7 linked regions of the Homo sapiens genome follow. The protein of the gene in region 4 purifies or fractionates together with the protein of the main gene of each other region. This does not show direct contact. Each region holds a gene or a part of one and is shown on either strand. Other genes may lie near its edges. The genes, in order: SEPTIN10, AGFG1, WDR4, ALAD, STAT5B, EFL1 and TOM1L1.

Evidence for each region.
Region 1: the proteins of ALAD (region 4) and SEPTIN10 fractionate together in Homo sapiens (co-fractionation; one large-scale study listed by BioGRID). This does not show direct contact.
Region 2: the proteins of ALAD (region 4) and AGFG1 fractionate together in Homo sapiens (co-fractionation; one large-scale study listed by BioGRID). This does not show direct contact.
Region 3: the proteins of ALAD (region 4) and WDR4 fractionate together in Homo sapiens (co-fractionation; one large-scale study listed by BioGRID). This does not show direct contact.
Region 5: the proteins of ALAD (region 4) and STAT5B fractionate together in Homo sapiens (co-fractionation; one large-scale study listed by BioGRID). This does not show direct contact.
Region 6: the proteins of ALAD (region 4) and EFL1 fractionate together in Homo sapiens (co-fractionation; one large-scale study listed by BioGRID). This does not show direct contact.
Region 7: the proteins of ALAD (region 4) and TOM1L1 fractionate together in Homo sapiens (co-fractionation; one large-scale study listed by BioGRID). This does not show direct contact.

Annotation. Positions count from the first base shown.
Region 1 is NC_000002.12:109,603,967-109,607,466, forward strand, and holds part of SEPTIN10 (septin-10), read right to left. Parts: intron 1-3,500. UniProt on the Homo sapiens protein: Filament-forming cytoskeletal GTPase. May play a role in cytokinesis.
Region 2 is NC_000002.12:227,534,656-227,538,155, reverse strand, and holds part of AGFG1 (arf-GAP domain and FG repeat-containing protein 1), read right to left. Parts: intron 3,312-3,500; coding exon 3,131-3,311; intron 1,532-3,130; coding exon 1,452-1,531; intron 1,256-1,451; coding exon 1,163-1,255; intron 1-1,162. UniProt on the Homo sapiens protein: Required for vesicle docking or fusion during acrosome biogenesis. May play a role in RNA trafficking or localization.
Region 3 is NC_000021.9:42,873,040-42,876,539, forward strand, and holds part of WDR4 (tRNA (guanine-N(7)-)-methyltransferase non-catalytic subunit WDR4), read right to left. Parts: intron 653-3,500; coding exon 512-652; intron 1-511. UniProt on the Homo sapiens protein: Non-catalytic component of the METTL1-WDR4 methyltransferase complex required for the formation of N(7)-methylguanine in a subset of RNA species, such as tRNAs, mRNAs and microRNAs (miRNAs).
Region 4 is NC_000009.12:113,385,812-113,388,548, forward strand, and holds the end of ALAD (delta-aminolevulinic acid dehydratase), read right to left. Parts: intron 2,551-2,737; coding exon 2,489-2,550; 3' UTR 501-2,488; downstream 1-500.
Region 5 is NC_000017.11:42,198,677-42,201,034, forward strand, and holds the end of STAT5B (signal transducer and activator of transcription 5B), read right to left. Parts: 3' UTR 501-2,358; downstream 1-500. UniProt on the Homo sapiens protein: Carries out a dual function: signal transduction and activation of transcription. Mediates cellular responses to the cytokine KITLG/SCF and other growth factors. Binds to the GAS element and activates PRL-induced transcription.
Region 6 is NC_000015.10:82,252,735-82,256,234, forward strand, and holds part of EFL1 (elongation factor-like GTPase 1), read right to left. Parts: intron 42-3,500; coding exon 1-41. UniProt on the Homo sapiens protein: GTPase involved in the biogenesis of the 60S ribosomal subunit and translational activation of ribosomes.
Region 7 is NC_000017.11:54,903,852-54,907,351, forward strand, and holds part of TOM1L1 (TOM1-like protein 1), read left to right. Parts: intron 1-1,637; coding exon 1,638-1,716; intron 1,717-2,927; exon of another isoform or gene 2,928-2,935; intron 2,936-3,500. UniProt on the Homo sapiens protein: Probable adapter protein involved in signaling pathways. Interacts with the SH2 and SH3 domains of various signaling proteins when it is phosphorylated. May promote FYN activation, possibly by disrupting intramolecular SH3-dependent interactions.

The sequences.
Region 1 (3,500 bases), on a different chromosome or scaffold from region 4:
CTGGCTAACACGGTGAAACCCCATCTCTACTAAAAATACAAAAAAATTAGCCGGGCATAGTGGCAGATGCCTGTAGTCCCAGCTACTCGGGAGGCTGAGGCAGGAGAATGGTGTGAACCTGGGAGGTGGAGATTGCAGTGAGCCGAGATCATGCCACTGCACTCCAGCCTGGGCGACAGAGCGAGACTCTGCCTCAAAAAAAAAAAAAAAAAAGAATTAAAAAAAAAATTAGCCAGGTGTGGTGGTGTGTGCCTGTAATCCCAGCAACTTGGGAGGCTGAGACAGGAGAATTGCTTGAACCTAGGAGGCAGAGGTTGCAGTGGTTGAGACTGCGCCACTGCACTCCAGCCTGGGTGACAGAGCGGGACCCCATAGAAAGAAAGAAAGAAAAAGAAAGAAAGGAAAGAAGGGAAGGGAAGGGGAGGGGCGGGGCGGGGAGAAAAGAAAGAAAGAAAAAAGAAAGAAAGAAAAGAAAAGAGGCCGGGCGTGGTGGCTGAGGCCTGTAATCCTAGCACTTTGGGAGGCCGAGGCGGGTGGGATCACGAGGTCAGGAGATCGAGACCATCCTGGCTAACATGGTGAAACCCTGTCTCCAGTAAAAATACAAAAAATTAGCCAGGCATGGTGGCGGGTGCCTGTAGTCCCAGGTACTCAAGAGGCTGAGGCAGGAGAATGGCATGAACCGGGGAGGCGGAGCTTACAGTGAGCCAAGATTGAGCCACTCCAGCCTGGGTGACAGAACGAGACTCTGGGGAGGGGAGGGGAGGGACAACACAGTAGTGGAATCTGCGTGTGCCAAGGGTACAAATATAACTGGTATGGTTGGAAAATCACAGTGAGCTCATCACTGAAGCCCAAGGAGGCTTACATGTAAATGCAAGGACAGCAGAAAAGGTGAGGCTGCAAGAAGCTGACTTCATGATTCTGAGTCCAAGTGACTCAAACTAAGGTCACTGGAGAGACGTCACTGTGAAGCAGGAAAGAGAATAGGAGAGGAATCAGCACAGGTTTGATGCAACTTTGGAACTACTGAGTTTAAGGTTCCTATGAGCACCTTGGATCCCTCAAAGAACTTTTATGTAAAATTTTACATTATCAAAAACAAATATACGTGGCCCAGTGGTAATTCTCACTTCTCTTGAAGTTTCCATTGATTCCTTGAGACTTGAATTGTTCTACACTGATAAGAGCATTAAAGATTCAGCTTAATTCATCAAGCCAGTCAGGCTTAGTTTTTGGGCTGAATATAATTATACCATATTACTAGTATGATCAGGCAGATCACCTGAGGTCAGGAGTTTGAGACCAGCCTGCCCAACATGGTGAAACTCTGTCTCTACTAAAAATACAAAAATTAGCCAGGCATGGTGGCAGGTGCCCGTAATCCCAGCTACTCAGGAGGCTGAGGCAGGAGAATCGTTTGAACCCGGGAAATGGAGGTTGCAGTGAGCTGAGATCGTACCACTGCACTCTACTCTGAGCGACAAGAGTGAAACTCCATTTCAAAAAATAATAATAAATAAATAAATAAATTGTACTTGAATAACAAAGTTAATTCATAAAAGTATAACATAATTTTCTGACTAAAAGGTAGGTAAATGGGAAAGTGTAGCTAAAAAAGCTAATCAGAATACCTGAGGATAAGCTAAATAATATCTGTATAATTTTTGTAATCAACAAAAAAGAAAATATATAGCAAAATATGCAAATACAAAACAAAATTATTTTCTCCAACTGTTCAAATTATAATGCTGTATTAGGTTCTTTAGTCCTCAGAGTTACATGGAAACTGTAAATTATAATTCTTTTCTATACAACAGAATTTCTGTTACTATGTGACAAGCAGCCTATCTTCTACCAAAACAGAGAGCCCCCAGAAATTCTCTCAATGATCCATGTCACAAAGAAGAAGAGTTAGCATGACATCAGTATAAATGTATGTTAAGAAGGCTGTTAGAATTAACTGTATAGTAGCAACAGATGCAAAATGCTGCATCATTAAGAACTGCCAAAGCCTGGAATGAGGTCTGGGGCAAGGAGGTACAAAGACAACATGGAGGAAACAAAAGACATTTTGTGCAAGGATGTGTGAAAGTTGCATCTCATCCAAAAAACTAGAGATAACAGTACTCAGCTCATGGGCTGGGAGAATAAAATGTGGTAACACAGGCCGGGTGCCGTGGCTCATGCCTGTAATCCCAGCACTTTGGGAGACCAAGGAGGGAGGATTACAAAGTCAAGAGATTGAGACCACCCTGGCCAACATGGTGAAACCCCGCTTCTACTAGAACTACAAAAATTAGCTGGGTGTGGTGGCACATGCCTGTAATCCCAGCTACTCCGGAGGCTGAGGCAGGAGAATCGTTTGAACCCGGGAGGCAGAGGTTGCAGTGAGCCAACACTGCACCACTGCATTCCAGTCTGGCGACAAAGCAAGACTCTGTCTCAAAAAACAAAAAATAAAAAATAAAATGTGATAACACAAGGGAAGTACTTGCCATGGTGAATGCACTTCAGCATCTGGTAGCATTCAATTACCATAGTGGACATAGTTATAGCCATAAAGGACAAGTCCACAGAAAAATATATCTTGACTACTTTATTACCTGCAAAGATCTTCAGAGATTACTAGGCCACTAAAAGTTGAAAATAATAGCTAAAAAGTTCCCTTTTATTAAAAAAAAAATTGCACTAAAAATTTTAAGCTTTTTTTTTTTTTTTTTTTTTTTTTGAGATGGAGTCTCACTCTGTCACTCAGGCTGGAGTGCAGTGGTGCAATGTCGGCTCACTGCAACCTCCGTCTCGCAGGTTCAAGCGATTCTCCTGCCTTAGCCTCCCGAGTAGCTGGGACTACAGGCACGCACCACTAGGCACAGGGTTTTACCATGTTGACCAGGCTGGTCTCAAACTCCTGACCGGAGGTGACCCACCCACCTCAGCCTCCCAAAGTGCTGGGATTACAGGCATGAGCCACCACGCCCAGCAAAGCTATTTCTTTCATGAATAGTGAAGAATTGAAAGGCTTCTCATGTTATTTTAAGTTTCAGCATATAAACAGTGTCAGACAGTGAATATTCTTCCTGTCTAAAATGTCTAGCCTGCTCTTCTCCGCTAATCCATGGCCATCGCTTCGTTTACTATTTAGCTCAATATTGAGCTTTTTGTAAAAAGCTTTCATTCTACTTATTTAAAGGTAGTATAAATCATAATCACACAAATAATTTGTATTTTCCAAAAATTCATATTAGTAAGCTGCTTGGAGTAAGACTACAGTCTCCATAGAAACAATATTACAAACAGCTAAGGTCCTGAGTAAGTTCTTGAATGCCTCATTTAACTTATAATGTACAGAGTATTTAGTCTTAGACTGTTTTCAAATCTAGTAGCAGACTCAGAAGAAAAAACATATGTTGCCCTATTGCTAGGATGGCTAACCATGGATCATGCATTCTCAATGGGGGCAGTACCTGTATTATCTCTCCCCCTAAAGAGAGCAGAAA
Region 2 (3,500 bases), on a different chromosome or scaffold from region 4:
AATCAAAACAGTATGCTAAGAAACAGAAACACTGCACATATCACACACCTGATAAATTGTACAAATGGAAATTTAAAACAATCATTCATTAGGTACACTTGAATTAAACTTTTTTTAAAGTTAAATTTTGTGTGAAATTCCAATACTTATCAAACATCTATTATGCTACTTACCAACAGAGTATAAGTGAAGACATTTATGTGAAAAGAAAATAGTTACAGCTCAAACTCCTAATACTGTGATTCTTAATCTTGTCAATGACAAAGAGATTTACTAAAAACTAGTAATTCTTAATGGTTTGATTAAAATGTTACAAGTACCTAATCTCTCAAGAGTTCATATCAACATTTGCTATAACTGGAGTTTAGGCTTTAGTTCTAAATTATTGTGACATATACACAAAAACAAAGCATACAAACTCTAGATTTAATGGATACCCAGCCATACCAAATGCACCTGCTGACATTCCAAGATACTGGCAAATATCTCTGGTGTTTAAGGTAATACGACAAAAATCAGAGGTATAACATGAGAAAGATGTGAATGGCTTACAGTATGAATCAAAAAATAAAATGGAGACAACAAAGAGAATTAAGGGAAAAAATTATCAAAAGAGAAAATATTCAGTATTATACCCACGACTGAATCAAGTTTCCACAACTTAAAAAATGTTAACACCTGAAAGAGATATTCACTAGAAAAAGACCTAATAATTAAGAATTCATGTAGTAAAGTCATCTGATGCAATCTCATAGGGAAAATAAAAACTTCTCATAAAATGGTTCCATTAAGACTGCATGAGTGACAACCAGTAATTCTGAAACCAGACCACCAAATACATCTAAATTGCTCTGTTCAAGTCCTATCTCTGTCATAAACGTTCTGTGGAGTCTCATCTCCATGTCTGGGCTTCCCTACCTGAAAAATGAAAGCTTTAACTGGAAAGGGCAGACACTAGATAATTTCTAAGGTCCCTCTCAACTGTTAAATTCCAGGATTTTATGAACTTTCAGCTAGAATTTGTCTTTATGGACAAACTCTTCTATCCATTGCCATTCACTTCACTAAGAAAGAGGCCCCATTTTCTGGTGTTCTTCACATGGTGTCTTTGTTGATAAATGTCTTCCCCAAAACTTACTGTTCCACTGTCTCTTTTTCTTACCTGTTGCTCCTCTGGCATTGGTCTGAAATGGGTTTGTAGAAGATGCCACAGAAGGACCAGCAGCAGCAACAAATGGATTTGTGGAAGGCGTAGCTTTAAAAAATTATAAAATACACTATAAAATCCTAATACATTTTGTATTTAAGATTTAAATTATTTCACTATATTTATCAAGACAGAAAACTCAAGGATTCTGATAACAAATCATTGCTTTGACTCCTAAGAAAATGCTACACAATATATATTTGGGTTCTTTGTAAAAACCAGTGTATATACCAGAAGCACATACCTCCAAATGGAGCAGGCACACTTGATGAAGCAGGCTGTGTCTGTGCAGAAGCAACCACTGGCACTGTTCCAAAAACATTGCTGAGAACAAATATTGAAAGAGTTCATTTTTTTTCTTAAAAAAAAAAGAAAGTAACGATTTACAGGGTAGCCATAAAATAATGAACATATCGTGTATCACAGCATCAGTATCAACACAAAGAAAATTAAGACATTTAAGTGTAAAGATGTAATAAAATAAACAATTGTTACTGCTTCATTAAGAATCATCATAAAAAAATAAAAAATACAAGTAAAACTGAATGTGTAGTGGGAAGGAATATGACTATTGTAACGACTAGTACAGTTTGGTGCCACTATCTTAATATTCATGTTAAAACACCAGCAAAAACCATTATTCTAAGCAAACTATATCACAAGGACAGAAAACCAAACACTGCATGTTTTCACTCATAGGTGTGAGTTGAACAACAAGAACAACACATGGACACAGGGTGGGAAACATCACACTTGGGGGCCTGTCGGGGGTGGGGGGCTGGGGGAGGGATAGCATTAGGAGAAATACCTAATGTAAATGATGAGTTGATGGGTGCAGCAAACCAACATGGCACATGTATACCTATGTAACAAACCTGCACGTTGTGCACATGTACCCTAGAACTTAAAGTATTAAAAAAAAATAAAAAGACACCAGCAAGTTTTACTTGCCATTGTTTTCACACCATCAATGCAAATATCAATTAATGAAAAGGTAAACAATCTCTCAGAATTATTATAAAGAAAGTTTTAACCTCACAGACCCCATGAAAGGGTCTCAGGTACCCCAAACATTCCATGGACCACAGTTTGTGAACCCCTGATGTACTGTAATGTAATATCAATAAATCATGTATTATATATAAAGTATGTTTCCAGACTTTATGTTTCCGGAAGTGTTACAATCCTAACATTTCTTTCTAGAAAAGATGCTAAAGGAAAATAAGCTACCAGGATAACTAAAGAAATTAGTAAATACAATCCACAGGATTGGAAAACAGAGATGAATAAAACATTGTTATAGGTAAATCTCTTGTATTTCTGAGACTATTTCCGCAACTCTAAAATAAAGACTAGAAAAGTTTTTTACAAGTGTAATGTCCTAAAATGTGTTAGACTTCCTACTGCCAAGAATTCTAACAGATATATATGAACATAACAGCAGATGTGCTTATTTGTAAATATGAGGATGACACTGAAGAGATACAGAATTGATTTTGGGCTTTGGTGCAAACACTTCTAAAAATCTGTATTTACAACTAAGCCTATAATATGGGACTTTCACTGTTTAATCATCATGACTAAAAACTATTTTTAAAGTATATTATTTGACTACTAAATGGATTCTCTGCTGAGTACAATCTGTAAGGAACTGTCCATTTTGAGATGTGTACATGCTCTCAAATACGGTTTAGTGTTCAAGGACAGAACATAACAAAACGTCTGATTCAATGAAAAGATAAAATTATGGCAATTATTCAAGGATTATATTTTAATTAGCATTTAAATTCAAATTCCTCAAATTTACAAAAATATCCAAGAATTTTAAAATTATACCTTGAAACAGTCATTTTTTAATTGATTATTCAAAGTTGGAAAAAAAAGATAAAACACAAAGCAGGAGGGCTAGCTAAGACAAGGTACCTGCTAGCATTACTTGTGGAAGTATACGCATTACTGGAGGTGGCTGCAGAACTGAAAACGCTGTCTAGTTCTGCCAGAGCTGCATACTTGTCTGAAGATGCACTTGACTGACTGGGAACTGAAACCACAGAACCAACAGGAGCTTTACCTGTGGTCCCAAAGCCACTTCCCTGATCACCACCTGGGAACGAACAAAATCAAGTTACACCAAAAATTTAAAGTTACACTTTCAACTTATCAACCACATTTGCCATGAAACACAGGTAAACTTAAAATGGATTTAGAGTTAAGCAGGATTCCAAATCATTAATCTAATAAATAACCTGGACCATACTGGACAGGATTAGTTGTTATACATACCACTGTGATA
Region 3 (3,500 bases), on a different chromosome or scaffold from region 4:
ACTGGCCTCCCCATCCCCACGGATCCACTCCCCATCCACTCTTCAGATACTCAGACATATGTGCACTAAACCCACCTAGCTTAATACTATGGTACAGACCCCTCAACAGACCCCAAATCCCTATCACTCTCCAGGGCAGGCTCACAGCCTTGTTCCTGCTAATCACAAGGACAGAGGACTGCCCTGGAAAACAGGGGCACCAACACTGTAGGTGGAGGGACCAGCAGCAGGGCCCGGCTCTGTCTTCCGAGCCCACTGATCGGAGTCTGCTATCTAACTGTTCACCACCCAGCGTGGGACAGAACAGCACCCCTGCACCCTCCCAGAACTGCCGTGAGGATCAGATCAGCCAACACACATGTGGCACTGAAAGTGGTGTCTGGCACTGAACTGCGGCTCCGTGTCAACCACTTATCACCCTTATCACCATGTTATGGTCACTATTGCTACAGGCATGCAAGGATAAGGTGTGCATTCGACATCTTAAGAATCCAGCGTTAGCATCTCATACCTGACACTCAGACATTGCCATGGTTTTGTACGGAAAAGAATCAGACGCTTACTGTCATCGGTTAAAGCAAAATAGCTGCCAGACTTGGAGAAGGTGGACGCCAGAATCGCACCGCTCCCCTGGTCCAAGGGCGCGTCCTCCCTGAGGAAGAGAGGAGGAAGACGGTTAAGCTTCACCTAAGGAAATAAGGCTGCATTCCTTGTTGGCCAGCGTGGTAATTTCTAACATGGGAGGAGGTAGAAACTGTTAAGGGGATCACGTAGCCAAAATACAGACATATTAAAGGGACATGGGGAAGTTCAAAACAGCTCTAATTTTATCAGCATGAAGCCTAACTAAACAGAAAATCTCCCAGCATACATGCCAGAACCCAGAGAGCTAAGCTGGAAGAACCCTCAATGACACATGGCCCTCTTCCTCATGGGCAAGGACTAACCCAAGGCTAGAGGCAGGGATAAACTCACATTAACAATACTAATAACAGGCCAGGTATGGTAGCTCAGACCTATAATCTCAGCACTTTGGTGTTGCGAGAAGTCAGGGACCCCAAACGGAGGGACCAGCTGAAGCCATGGCAGAAGAATGTGGATTGTGAAGATTTCATGGACATTTATTAGTTCCCCAAATTAATACTTTTATAATTTCTTATGCCTGTCTTTACTGCAATCCCTAAACATAAATTGTGAAGATTTCATAGACACTTATCACTTCCCCAGTCAATACCCTTGTGATTTCCTATGCCTGTCTTTACTTTAATCTCTTAATCCTGTCAGCCGAGGAGGATGTATGTCACCTCGGGACCCTGTGATAATTGCGTTGACTGCACAAATTGTAGAGCATGTGTGTTTGAACAATATGAAATCTGGGCACCTTGAAAAAGAACAGGATAACAGCAATGTTCAGGGAACAAGAGAGATAACCTTAAACTCTGACCGCTGGTGAGCCAGGCGGAACAGAGCCATATTTCTCTTCCTTCAAAAGCAAATGGGAGATATATAGCTGAATTCTTTTTCTCAGCAAGGAACATCCCTGAGAAAGAGAATGCGCCCCTGAGGGTGGGCCTCTGAAATGGCCCCCTTGGGTGTGGCCATCTTCTGGTCGAGACTGTAGGGATGAAATAAGCCCCAGTCTCCCATAGCGCTCCCAGGCTTACTAGGATGAGGAGATTCCCGCCTAATAAATTTTGGTCAGACCGGTTACTCTCAAACCCTGTCTCCTGATAAGATGTTATCAATGACAGTGGTGCCCGAAACTTATTAGCAATTTTAATTTTGCCCCGGTCCTGTGGTCCTGCGATCTCGCCCTGCCTCCATTTGCCTCGTGATATTCTATTACCTTGTGAAGCATGTGATCTCTGTGACCCACACCTATTCGTACACTCCCTCCCCTTCTGAAAATCCCTAATAAAAACTTGCTGGTTTTACGGCTCAGGAGGCATCACGGAACCTACCGACATGTGATGTCTCCCCCGGACGCCCAGCTTTAAAATTTCTCTCTTTTGTACTCTGTCCCTTTATTTCTCAAACCGGCCGACGCTTAGGGAAAATTGAAAAGAACCTACGTGAAATATCGGGGGTGAATTTTGCCCAATATCTGGCTGAATTTCCCCCAATACTTTGGGAGGACAAGGCGAGAGGATCGCTTGAGCTCAGGAGTTCAAGACCAGCCTGGGTAACATGGCGAAACCACGTCTCTACAAAAAACTACAAAAATTAGGCAGCCCTGGCGCGGTGCCTCACACCTGTAATCCCAGCACTTTGGGAGGCCAAGGCAGGTGGATCACGAGGTCAGGAGATCGAGACCATCCTGGCCAACATGGTAAAACCTCGTCTCTACTAAAAATACAAAAAAAAAATTAGCCGGGCATGGTGGTGCGTGCCTGTAGTCCCAGCTACTCAGGAGGCTGAGTCAGGAGAACCACTTAAACCAGGGAGGTGGAGGTTGCAGTGAGCCAAGATAGCGCCACTGCACTCCAGCCTGGCAACAGGGCAAGACTCCATCTCAAAAAAAAATTAGGTATGTTGGCATGTGCCTGTAGTCCCAGGTACTTAGGGGGATGAGGCGGGAGATCACCTGAACCCAGGAGGTCGAGGCTGCAGGGAGTTATGTTTGTGCAACTGCACTCCAACCGGGGTAACAGAGAGACCCTGTCTCAAAAAATAATAATAACGATAAAACAAACTGAGCCACAATACCAATGATAACTAAAGAAAGCCACCATACGAAACACTCACATGCTCTACTTTTATATCTCAATTAGCTGAAGTTAACTTCCTACACCCGCCTTCAACCATTACTTCAAGGAGCCAGTAAGATGTGATTACTGACAGAAACTAAAAGTATTTAGAAAAGTCCTAACACTGTGCTTTTTTTTTTTTTTTTTTTGAGACGGAGTCTTGCTGTGTCACCCAGGTTGGAGAGTGCGGTGGCGCAACCTCGGCCGACTGCAACCTCCGCCTCCTAGGTTCAAGTGATTCTCCCACCTCAGCCTCCCAAGTAGCTGGGACTACAGGCGCCCACCAGCATGCCTGGCTATTTTTAGTAGAGATGGAGTTTCATCACATTGGCAAGGCTGGCTTTGAACTTCTGACCTCAGTCAGCACCCTGGCTTCCCAAAGTGCTGAGATTATAGGCATGAGCCACCGCACCCGGCACTAACACTGTACTCTTTTTTTTTTTGGGAGACAGAGTCTTGCTCTATTCCCCAGGCTGGAGTGCAATGCCGCAATCTCAGCTCTCTGCAACCTCCGCCTCCCAGGTTCAAGTGATTCTTGTGCCTCAGCCTCCCAAGTAGACGGGATTACAGGTGCCTGCCACCACGCCCAGCTAACTTTTTTATTTTTAGTAGAGACAGGGTTTCGCCATGTTGGCCAGGATGGTCTGGAAATTCTGACCTCAGGTGATCCACCCACCTTGGCCTCCCAAAGTGCTGGGATTACAGGCATAAGCCACCGTGCTCAGCCAACAATGTACTCTTAATGCCTAACCT
Region 4 (2,737 bases):
TTGTGGCGCCATCTCCCATCCCATTGTTTACAGTGACTGAGCCAAGAGTGGACCATGTGGCCTGAACAGGCCCAATCAGAGACCTCCAGAGATTTGCTATGTGAGTGATGGGACAGGAAGGCTCTTTCTCTGGGATTACAAATCTTAACGACTATTTAAGCCTAGAATTATTGAGGATCATGTTGCTGGCAAGTGGCAAAAACCCACCTGAGTATAAAGCTGGGGCAAACACAGACGAGAGTTAGAAAGGGACAGAGACCTCCATGGGGTTTGACCCTGGGCCCAACCACACCTGTCCTTATCTCAATCCAGTTATGAAAACCAATCATGTCCTTCTTTGCTATTGAACTGGATTTCCATCACTTGCAACCAAGTAGGTGCCTGGTCTCCTTGGTCTCCCCGTATAACTGGGGCTAATTGCAGATGGTCCCCGAACTGTGATCATTCAATTCACAATTTTTGACTTTACAACAGTATGAAACAAGACATTCAGTAGAAACTGTACTTCAAATATTGAATTTTTATTCAAAATTCTTTACAACTTTATTACAATATAGATTTTGTGTTGGATAGTTTTGCCCACTGTAGGCTAATGTAAGTGTTCTGAGCATGTTTAAGGCAGGCTAGGCTAAGCTATGATGTTTGGTAGGTTAGGTATATTAAATACATTTTTGACTTATGATCATATTTTCAACTTATGATCATATTTTCAACTTATGATGGGTTTATCAGGATGCAAACCCATCACATAAATGGAGGGGTGTCTATAAAACATTGTTAGACCTATAATTTTGCTGTTGATTATTGGGAGGTGGTATGGCACAGTGGTTAGGGGCAGAGGCCTTGGAGTTGGACTACATGGGTTCAAATCCCAGCTTGGCTGTTTTCTGTGCAGTTCTAATCCAGTTCTGCCACAAACTTGTTGAGTGGCCTTAGGTGAGTCACATAAGCACTCTAGATATAGCTTCCTTATTGCAAAATGTCTCAAGCTAAGTTTAGTATTCTCCCTCCACCCCGACCCTGCTTCTGTTCCTCTTCCAGGCTGCCCCATCTCAGTAAATGGCCCATCAGCCACCCAGAAGGTCAAGCCAGATTCATCCTTCACATCGAATCTACCTTCTAAACACATCCACAATCCATTCCCCTTTCTCCATCCCCACTGTCCCCGCTCCAGTCCATGCCATCAAGACTTTTCATTTGCACTTTGCCGCAGAGCTGTTAAAATACTTTTACAAACTACAAATTTGATTGAGTCACTCTGAAAAGGTGAATGTGGCCCTTGACCTCTGCATGGTTTGGTCCTGGTCTGTCTCTCTCCACTCAGTTCAGGCCATCCTCTCAGTGCTCCAGACAAGCTAGCCTTGCATTCCTCCAGCTAGAAGGAGCCCCAGGGCCTTTGCACAACTCCTCCCTCTCCCTGGAATGCTCTTCCCCAATTGTCTTAGCTTGATGGCTCACCCTTCAGGTCTAGGCTCAAATGTCAGTCCTTCAGGGAAGTATTTTCTGATCCTTCAAAGAGGTCAGGTCCTGGTGACCTCCTTCAGAGCACCTGTCACCACATCACTGGTGCATGTCTGCCTCCTTCCCAACTACTGTTTCAAGAGAGGCCCCTTCCCTGTTGTTGTCTCAGACCCCTTCTTTCCTTCAAAGCACTTATCACAATTTGTAACTGCTTTATTTCTTTGTTTTCTTCTTAGCTGTCTCCCCAATTCTCTTTGTATAATTTCTATGAAGAGATAAGCTGAGGTCTGTCCTGCTGTATTCCCAGGACCCAGCACTGAACCTAGGAACAGAGCAGAGATTCTCAAAAAGTATCTCCTGAATAAAAAGTGTTTGTGGTGGTGGCACCTCTAGCAGTCAGGAACTCCCTCTTTGCCTCTGAGTTTTGATCCTCAGGCAGTATTTATGCTGGTTAATGAGTAATTCTTCTCTGGGTTTATGGTTCAGAGTAGAATAGGAGACCTCAGGCAGCCTGGCAACCTCTGGCCTCGTGGGAAATGCCTTCCAGTGGAATTGCGGCAAATTTCAACTCTAACCCAGGGATATCGATCTAGGCCTCATTCCCACACCCAGCTCTGCTGCCAGAAGCGTTCCAAGGCTTCTCAGGCCCCAAGATCCCACTGCTCTCTTCTTCCCCTAATGCTCCAAGACCCTCTCCCAGCCAGGCCCCAAAGGCTGTGCCCCCGACTCCAGGTTGCTTTCAAGCTGAAGCCACACCAGAGGAAAGAGCTGAGGGTGGCAAAGGTGGGCCTCACGGCTGACCCAGGGGAGGGGCGGGGAAGCTTGGGAGAGCTCATAGGATGCAGCTGCGAGTTACAAGAGTTAGCATGCTGGCAAAACCACCCAGGGCTGCTGGGCCCCGCTAGCATGTGAGCAGGAAGAGGGCATGAGGGCACAGTTCTAAAAGCAGCATTTACTTTGGTTTTCACTTGTCTGAGGCCCCGGGAACGTTTTAAAGTTCTAGTTCTTGGGCCTGGCACTGTCTCCATCATTCCTCCTTCAGCCACTGCAGCAGCTGCGGTGTGTAGTAGGTGATGATGATGTCAGCACCTGTGTTGGGAGAGATGCAGAAAGTTGCTGGGGGGACGCTGATCAGCTCTGAGCACACCTTCTGCGATGGGAAGGCCAGGCGGGGAAGAAGGCTACCATGAAGAAGCACAGCCTGTGGGCACACCACATGAGACGGAGCCCAGCTTTGGGAAACTCTATTTCTTGGGCAAGTCATTTCCTCTTTTGG
Region 5 (2,358 bases), on a different chromosome or scaffold from region 4:
GATTGCAGCAGGAAGCGATATCCTAGCATAATCAGTTGTGGTAGCTGCCTTTCTCCAACTGTGAGCCTCTGCAGGGAAGGCACCATTTCTCATCCCACACACAACGCTGAACTCAGGGTCAGGTACTCTAAATGTGCTGAATCTTAAGGACAGGCTTTCAGCCGGGCGTAGTGGCTCACGCCTGTAATCCCAGCACTTTGGGAGGCTGAGGTGGGCAGATCATGAGGTCAGGAGATCGAGACCATCCTGGCTAACAAGCTTTCTGGAGTCAGGAGGCTAGGAGACCATCATTCTTATTTTCAAAACATCATATGAGCAGGAAGGTATGAAAGGCCCCATCTGCCATCAGAGCTAATGACGTGCCCTCTGAGGCAGCCAACTCCCAACCACCCAACCAGTTCCCTTTTTCAGGGTCACGCTGATGACTTGAAACTTTTCCGTGTTCAAGCTGCCCTCCCTTGGCATGTGACAGAAAAAAGTAAAAACAGGACTCAATACCATCCCTTCAGAGGAAGGCTTTATTGTAACATAAAATACACAACTTTGTGACTGTAACTCTGCATAGGATATATTTCTTTTTTTTGAGGCAGAGTCAAATTTGAGGCCCCAAATTGTACACAATACTTTTTTTTGGTGGCTAAATAACTAATCTGCCTTGACACTAAAATATGTATCTGAAATAATTTCACCAAGTTTTAAAAAGAAAAATTATAAAAAGTATACTTTCATTTTAAGTTATATTCGATTTTAGTCTCCCCCTACCCCCTAGAAAAAACCTGCACATCTCACACACGGAGCTGAAACTTTTGAGGACTTGTGTGTGTCTGGGAGTGGGTGAGAGGCTGATGGGGTCGAGACACACCACTACCTTTATCTTGTGGTTTGCAGGAACAAGGAGGAGAGAGAAGATAGAACGCAGAGAGCGAGCACACCTTTCATCAAAAATCTCCACTCTCTAGGCACAGCCTCGGTAACACCGAGGACAGCTCACAACTGGACAAGCAGGGAAACCCCAGCTCAGGGAAGCCACACTCATCAGCTCTCTTCCTCCCCAACCCAGTGCCAACTGCAAAGTGAGCCAGGACGGCCTGGCTGCTCTGTCCTCAGCAGGCCCTGGGGTGGGTCCACTCCCAACCTGAAAGTGTATCAAGTCTGACCCCCCAACCAGGGTTGCTGGAACAGAGAGCGAGGTCTCAGAGGCAGGTGCTGGTGAAGCATCTCTGGGAGACGGGCAGGGAGTGACTCTACGAGCCTGGATCCCTGAGCAGGCAGGCTCTCCTTCTCACCCTTCCCCGATGCACCCATCCTCATGGTTGGAATTTTCATCAAATCTTGAGGGGTAGGGAGGGGCTGAGTGGGATGCGGGTAGCCTGCTCCTCAGAGGCAGAGAGACTCTACTGCCTGGCATAGAAAAATAAATCAGTGTATGAAACCAAGCCAAGGCAAACGGCAGCTTTAAAAAAGTCATCTTCCAATAAATAATTTACTATAGAGGAATATTTTTAACGGCAAAACACTGATAAATTCAGAAGTTATTTTTGTAAAAAAAATATGTTTATTTACTCTCATGTATAAAAATAAGGTTTTTGGGGCCATCCTCTCCTGGGGGTGCCCATGCCCTTCTTTTGGAGAGGGGGCCGAGGGGTGACCTTTTAGGCCTTACCCGTAAGCTATTTTAATACACCTGCTCACCCCCCTCTTCCTCCACTACCTGCTGTAGCCCATTCCTTCCTTCTGGTGTAAAGCTACAGAAGAAGTCGTGGAACAAAATTATACCGAGGCTTTTTTTGTTTTGTTTTATACTTTTATCAAACTCCCCAGCAAACTTGCTGACTGCATTTCCACACATTACCAACACCTGCCAGGACTTCACAGCAGGGTGACCCGCTAAGCAAGCTGGCCTAGGTTCAGCCCACACTGCTGCTACCTACTCTTCAAGACATTAGGTGTGAACAGAGAAGGGGAATGAGGTGACCTGGGTTTGAATGACCCAGGGCCCAATGCACAAGAGAGAATTTTGATGTCAAATTAGGGTGGCAAGGAGAAAACAAAAAAGATCCAACTTAGAAACAGAACCATGATTCAACATTTGCAAAAAGCATCATCAATAAGCCTGAAGAAGGCCACGGACTGTGCATCCGCTGGCTCAGAGAAAGGCTGGGCAGCCGGAACAGCAGCTTCCTGGGTAACCAGGCAACAATCTCAGCGCCTGGGAGTCAGGGCTGCGCACTCCACTCTGGCCAGAACACAAACGGCATTGGCACTGTAAGCTCTCAGTTACGTGGCCCTCTTTTCTCTCCTCTATTTCTCCAAACATATGTGCACACCCAGAGGAACTGAGTGGCAATTCCAGGGTGC
Region 6 (3,500 bases), on a different chromosome or scaffold from region 4:
CCTCGGATCTGTTCATCTTCTCTGCTGTCCATGTACCTTAACTGGAAAAATGCAACATATGCATCTTCACTTCCCAAAGAATTAAAATGTAACATTAAAATTTGCTAATTTAGATTTTTGTTTTAAATACTTATATTTAATTTGTTATTTTTATTTATTTTTGTAGAGACAGGGTCTTGCTATGTTGCCCACACTAGTCTTGAACTTCTAGCCTCAAGTGATCCTCCCACCGTGGCCTCCCAAAGTGCTGAGATTACAGGTGTGAACCATCATGCCCAGCCAATACTTAAATTTTAACCTATATAGAGCCTTTTTTTTTTTTGAGACAGAGTCTTATTCTGTTGCCCAGGCTGGAATGCAATGGTACAATCTCGGCTCACTGCAAACTCTACTTCCCAGGTTCAAGTGATTCTCTTGCCTCAGGCCTCCCAAACAGCTGAGATTACAGGCATGTGCTAACACACCTGGCTAATTTTTGTATTTTTAGTAGAGACAGGGTTTCGCCATGCTGGCCAGGCTGGTCTTGAGCTCCTGACCTGAGGTGATCCACCCACCTCAGTCTCCCAAAGTGCTGGCATTACGGGCATGAGCTACCGCGCCTAGCCCTCTCTCTTTTTTTTTTTTTTAAGATGATGGGGGTCTGGAGAAGTGAAGTTGATTGAGGGGAAGGGAACATGAAAAATTGAAAAACATAACCACTAGGAACCATAAATGTATTGAAATACTGCATACCCTCCCCAGAGTGTTGCTCATCCAAATATCAGCCGTGAATGATGGGGCAGGTCAAGAACAACTTACGGACAGTAGCATTTGAGGGAATTCTTTCTAAACATCAATAACATAGCCATTCTTTTCCTATTTATAAGCTGTTTGACAAATTCTGAGCAGAGACTGAAACAGAAGTCTCTAGAAGCAAGAGAAGTCTTTATTCCTTTCCCAAATTAATAGATTTTGAATACATCTTTTTTAAAAAAAGAATACAGTAGAAAATATTTGTAATATGACCATTTAGTTGATGACTTTCATAACACTGTAATACCCACCAATGAGTGTCTACATCTCATTTTCTAGGCCTTGCAGTGCATCAGTACTGACAGTGGTGTCGTTTAAATAAAGATCCCATCCCTTTCCAACTCCTTAGCCCTAAGCACCAGACTAACCTTCTCCTCCTTTCTCCAGAATGATTTTCCCTTACCCTTCCTCCATTCTCTCCACTGTCAAACTTTTGAAAAATTCTTAACCTGTCTATTTTCTCCTTTCTTTCATTCAAAAGCACCAAGAATTATCTGTTGATATGAACTGCCACATTTATTCATCCATATTAATTCTGAAATTTTCAGAAAAGCTTCCATTTCCACAGCTCTGGCAAAATCAAAGTCCTAAAAGCTATCAATGACCTCTGGCGAAACGCAATAATCATTCTCAATCCTCATTTTTCTTGATTCCAGTGCAGCATGACAGTTACCCTTTGTGTGCATGTGTGTTACGTGCATATGTGAAATTCTTCCAAGAGTCTGAAACCTCTTAATTTACCTCCATCTCTCCTTAGATCCCACTGCTGGTTTCCCTTCACCTCTCCAACCTCTCAGTCAGTCCTTCCTTCAGAAAGTCTCAGTCCCTTGTCAGTTTTCTATAATGTATGTTTTTAAGCACTGAATTGGTATGAAACGTGTAATACATAAATAACAACACAATGAACCCCTGTGTATGCACCATCCCATTTCAAAAGGAAAAAAAAAAATGTTTGTTACTTTTGAAGTACCCTGTGCCCCTGGCTTACAGGTAACCACTATCTTGAATTTTATCTTGATCATTTCCTTATTTTCTTTATAATTTTTAAAAATGAGTGTGTCACTAAGCAATATATCATTTAGAGTGGCAAGTTTTAAGCCTTCTATAAGAATCATACTTAATATATTATACTGTCACTTTTTCTCTGCTCAATATTGTTTTCCTGAGATTCAGCCACATTGACGTAATTTATTCATTTTTATTACTGTAGGACTCCACCTCACAAATCTACCAGACCCATTCGTCCATTGTAGAGAATGAAGGAAGGGTAAGGGAAAATCATTCTGGAGAAAGGAGGAGGAGGTTAGTCTGGTGCTTAGGGCTAAGGAGTTGGAAAAGGATGGGATCTTTATTTAAATGAAACCACTGTCAGTACTGATGTACTTCAAGGTCTAGAGAATGAGATGTAGACCTTCAACTGGTGGGTACTGATGGACATGGAGACTGATTCCAGTTTTTTGTAACTATTACTGAGTTGATATGAACAGTTGTGGGTCTCTTGTACACTCCCTACCAGTAGAATTTCTGAGTTATTAAATCTGCACATCCTCAACCTAACTTGATATTTCCAAATTATTTTCCAAATTGTTGGACTGATCCACAGTGGAATAGTGCGTTTCTTGATCCATAACCTCCACAGCTGATATTGCTGGACTTTATTTTCTAAGTAAGATGGGTGATAAATAGCATCTCATGGTTTTAAATTTACATTTATCCTATTATTAATGGGATTAAGTATCCTTTTGTAAGTTTTTTACTGGCCATTTAACATTCCTTTTCTGTGAATTGCCTATACAAGGCTTTTGTCCACCTTCCTACTGGTTGCAATACAGATTTATTTTGTTTTGGATAGGAGTTATTTATAGTCTCTGAATATTAGTCCTTTGTCAATTATATGTGTGTTATTAATATTTTTCACAGTTACCAGGCTTGTTTTTTCCATTTCTTTCTGGCATCTTTGATGAATATGTACTTAATTTTAAGTAGTTTATTAACCTTTTATAAAATTGTTTGCACATTTTTGTCTTAAGAAATCTTCCTTTAAGGTCATAAAAATATTAGCCCATATTATTTTCTAAAAGCTTTAGTTTTTAAATAAAAAAGCTTTTAAATAAAAATGTCTTAACTGTGCAATTTGTGTGTGGTGTTAACTAGAGGTCCAATTTTTTTTTCCACAGGGATAACCAGTTGCCCAAGAACCACTTGAAAGGTTCATCTTTTTCCCACAGATCTGAAATGCCAGCCTACTATTCTGAGCCGTCAGTCAATTTCATGCCTCAGCCGATTCCAGGCCACAGGTTACAACACATCAACACATTGATAAGTCTTGCCAGTGGGTAAGATGTATTTCCATATCTTACTCTTCTTCAGTCCCGGCTATTAATTGGTTTATTTGCTCTTCTGTATATATTTTTAAATCAGCATATCAAGTTGAAATTTTTAAAAATCTGTTGGAATTTTTACTGGAATTGCTGAATCTACAGATCAATATTTTTTAAATGTCATTTAAAAAATAGACAGCCAATACGTAAATATGGTATATCCTTCCATTTAAGTTTTCTCCAATATCTCATAGGTTTTGTTGTTATTGTTGTTGTTTTTGAAGAGATGGCGTCTTGTGCTATCCACCAGGCCGGAGTGCAGTTGCTGTCACAGCTCTTTGCAGCCTCAAACTCCTGGGTTTATGCAACTGTCCTGCCTAGCTTCCC
Region 7 (3,500 bases), on a different chromosome or scaffold from region 4:
CGTTTTCTCTTGCAAATATTTCGGTTTTGTTGTTGAAAGAGTGTTTTCATCATTCATTAGGCACCCTCTATCTTTTGAAGACTTGTCAGGTTGAAATATTGGGGCAGCTGCTTGCTTCAACATGTGGAGTATCCATAAATCCACTATAATTTTTCTCCTCTTGGCAGTTTCTTTAATAGTTTCAAATTTTGTCACTGTGAAGCTCAAATTCCTTCCTTCTAAAAGATTGAAAAAGGCCGGGCGCAGTGGCTCACGCCTGTAATCCCAGCACTTTGGGAGGCCGAGGCGGGCGGATCATGAGGTCGGGAGATGGAGACCATCCTGGCTAACACGTTGAAACCCCATCTCTACTAAAAAATACAAAAAAAATTAGCCAGGCATGGTGGCGGGTGCCTGTAGTACCAGCTACTTGGGAGGCTGAGGCAGGAGAATGGCGTGAGCCTGGGAGGTGGAGCTTGCAGTGAGCAGAGATCATGCCACTGCACTCCAGCCTGGGTAACAAAGCAAGACTCTATCTCAAAAAAAAAAAAAAAAAAAAAATTGAAAAAGAGAGATTGTGTCCTTCTTTAGGAATATCTCCAGCTCCCAGTGCCAGTATTTGATGAAACCATCAAATATTATCAAGAAGCTGGTTGACTCCCGGTGGTGACCTATTTCTGAGCAATTATTTCTAGTAACCAGGAAACAATCTAGCAGTCTTTTTTCCTCCCTGTCCCAGGACAATTTTTTTCCTTCTGAATGTCAACTCACCCATGTTTAAGCTGTATTCTTATAGCATGTGCTATCGTTTGTTCTTAAACTTCTTAAACTTTCGAGAATCGAAGTTATAAGAAAAAAGTCATTAAGAAGAGCAAACTGGTTTGCTTGTAGTCAATTACAAGTTATTCTAAGGAACACAATTCTGGTAATTTTCCTGGGCATATTAAAGTGATAACTGGCAGTAAAAGAGATTTAGTCTAGCTTATGTTGATAAAGAAAACATCAAACTTAATTATTGATTATAAATAAATGGAAAGCGCTTATGGTTAGTACTTTTAAGTGTGTATGGTTTTTTTCCTATAATCCTATTTACCATGTTTAGTTCCTCTGGGAACATTTTCATTGATAATACCAATTCATTGATAATACAAAAAGAGAATCTTAAAGTAAATTTGGACCCTTATAAACAGTCCTTTCTTTGTAACATAAAATTGTGGCGTATTGGCAGCTGACCTAGTTTGTTGTAATTCCTGTTACATCCCCTTGTCTATAGGGTGCTCAGGAAATACTAATAGTTTTAATAAAAATGGTAACATTCATTGTTTCGGAAGTTGCATTTCCTATAAGTTGGTTCTGTGCATTGATAGAGGGATACAGGAATGAGTGCATTTCATGGGTAGTACTTTCTAGGTAATAGTCTTGTACGAAAATATTTTATTTGATTCTCATAAGGGGTTAGGTGGTATTGTCTGCCTGTATGCGTGAAGAAATTTAGGTTCAAGAAGTTAAGTCATTCGCATAGGGTCCCACAGTAGAACCAAGGCCTTAGTTTTCTGCTCCTTAGCCATTCCTCTCTCCAAATGCATGTTGCTTTTCAGAGAGACTGCTTGTTTTCAGCAATGCCTAAATTGGTGATTTCAGTGTATTTATTGCTATAGGCCAAAAGATGCAGTGAAAGCTTTGAAGAAAAGGATTTCCAAAAACTACAATCATAAAGAAATCCAACTTACCTTGTCAGTAAGTACTTTAATTTTATAATTAAGACTCGAGGATTTCTCAAGCTATAGTTACATTTTTAATCCTGGGTAAAAAATAAGAAGCAAGTATTCTGAGAAAACTAATAGGTTAGCTAGGAGTTGTGTACAGTATGACTTAAAACTCTTCATTTATGAGAATTGCAGAATAAAGAAAGTTTAGTTGTTTATAATAGCATTTAATAGCATTTAATTTCATGGAAGGAGCTTGTTCCTGAAAAATCAATTTTTCTTGGTCAGGAGATAGGAATTAGTGGTTAACATGTATTACACATGGTGAACTGATCAAGAAGTTTGTGTAGTGGCTGGGTGTGGTGGCTCCTGCCTATAATCCTAGCACTTTGGGAGGCCGAGGTGGGATGATCGCTTGAGCCCAGGAGTTTGAGAACAGCCTGGGCAAGATGGTGAGAGCCCGTCTCTACAAAATGTTTAAAAATTAGCCAGATGTGGTGGCCTGCATCTGTAGTCCCAGCCACTTAGGAGGCTGAGGCAGGACAATCACTTGAGCCCAGGAATTCAAGATGGCAACGAGCTATGATCATGCCACTGCAACTCAGCCTGAGTGATAAAGAGAAACCTCAACTCTTAAAAAAAAAGTTTGTGGCTGGGTACGGTGGCTCACACCTGTAATCCCAGCACTTCGGGAGGCCGAGGCAGGTGGATCACCTGAGGTCAGAAGTTCGAGACCAGCCTGACCAATATGGTGAAACCCCGTCTCTACTAAAAATACAAAAAGTAGCAGGGCGTGGTGGCGTGTGCCTGTAGTCCCAGCTACTTGGGAGTCTGAGACAGGAGAATTGCCTGAACCTGGGAGGTGGAGATTGCGGTGAGTCGAGATCGCACCACTGTCCTCCAGTCCTCCAGCTTGAGCAACAGAGCAAGACTCCTTCTCAAAAAAAAAAAAAAAAAGTTTGTGCATGTATTAATTAACCATAATTTAAGATGAGGAGAATTGAAATTTTGAAAAATACCTCCCTGTAAGCTTTCTGCCTTACTTGAACAGCTTTGTGGAATCCTGAGATGCTCTCAGCTCATTAAATTCCAAACAAGTTCTGCTGCCTGGCGTGATTTGGAGAATGTTCTATGTTGGTTTAAGCAATTCTCCTGTGTGTTGTATTGTCTGTGATTTAAGTGTGGACTCTTATTTGATGTGTTCCCATTTTCCCACCATCCTTGGCAATATGACCTCTTCAGTCACGTTGGTGAGTTGTCCTTTTTACTTTAGTATGTGTTGCAAGCCCTGCCTGCTGCCTGAGAGTGAGCTGTGTAGCTTTCTGATTTATTCTGCACGCCTTTGTTTATCTCAGCCCAGCCCAAGACTGTGCATGGTCACGGCACTAATCAGCCAACATCACGCTGCGTTAGGAGCATTAGTCTTTATCAAGAGGACTTTGGGGCATATGTGAGCATAGCTCCTGGTTTCTAGTTACATGAAGAAGAAAATGGACATCTTGCATAGGCTCGCTGAATAAGCAGAAATGCTGTGAACGGTCTTCATGATTTGATCATTAAAGAAACCCTTCACATTGGGATCTGAATATAGTTTTAGAGGCATTTTCCCCCTTCACCTTTTTTTTTTTTTTTTGACCTCTTACCTGTCCTTAACTCTTGAAGGTCACAGAATGGAGAAGACGGGAGAGAGGAGTGAGGCACTTCTGTAGAAATCCCAGAATGATGGGTCACTGATAGAAATGCCTGGCACCTGACCAATGCTCTTGACAACCCTGTGAAGTAGTTCTATTATTAACTCCATTTAACAGATGAAGA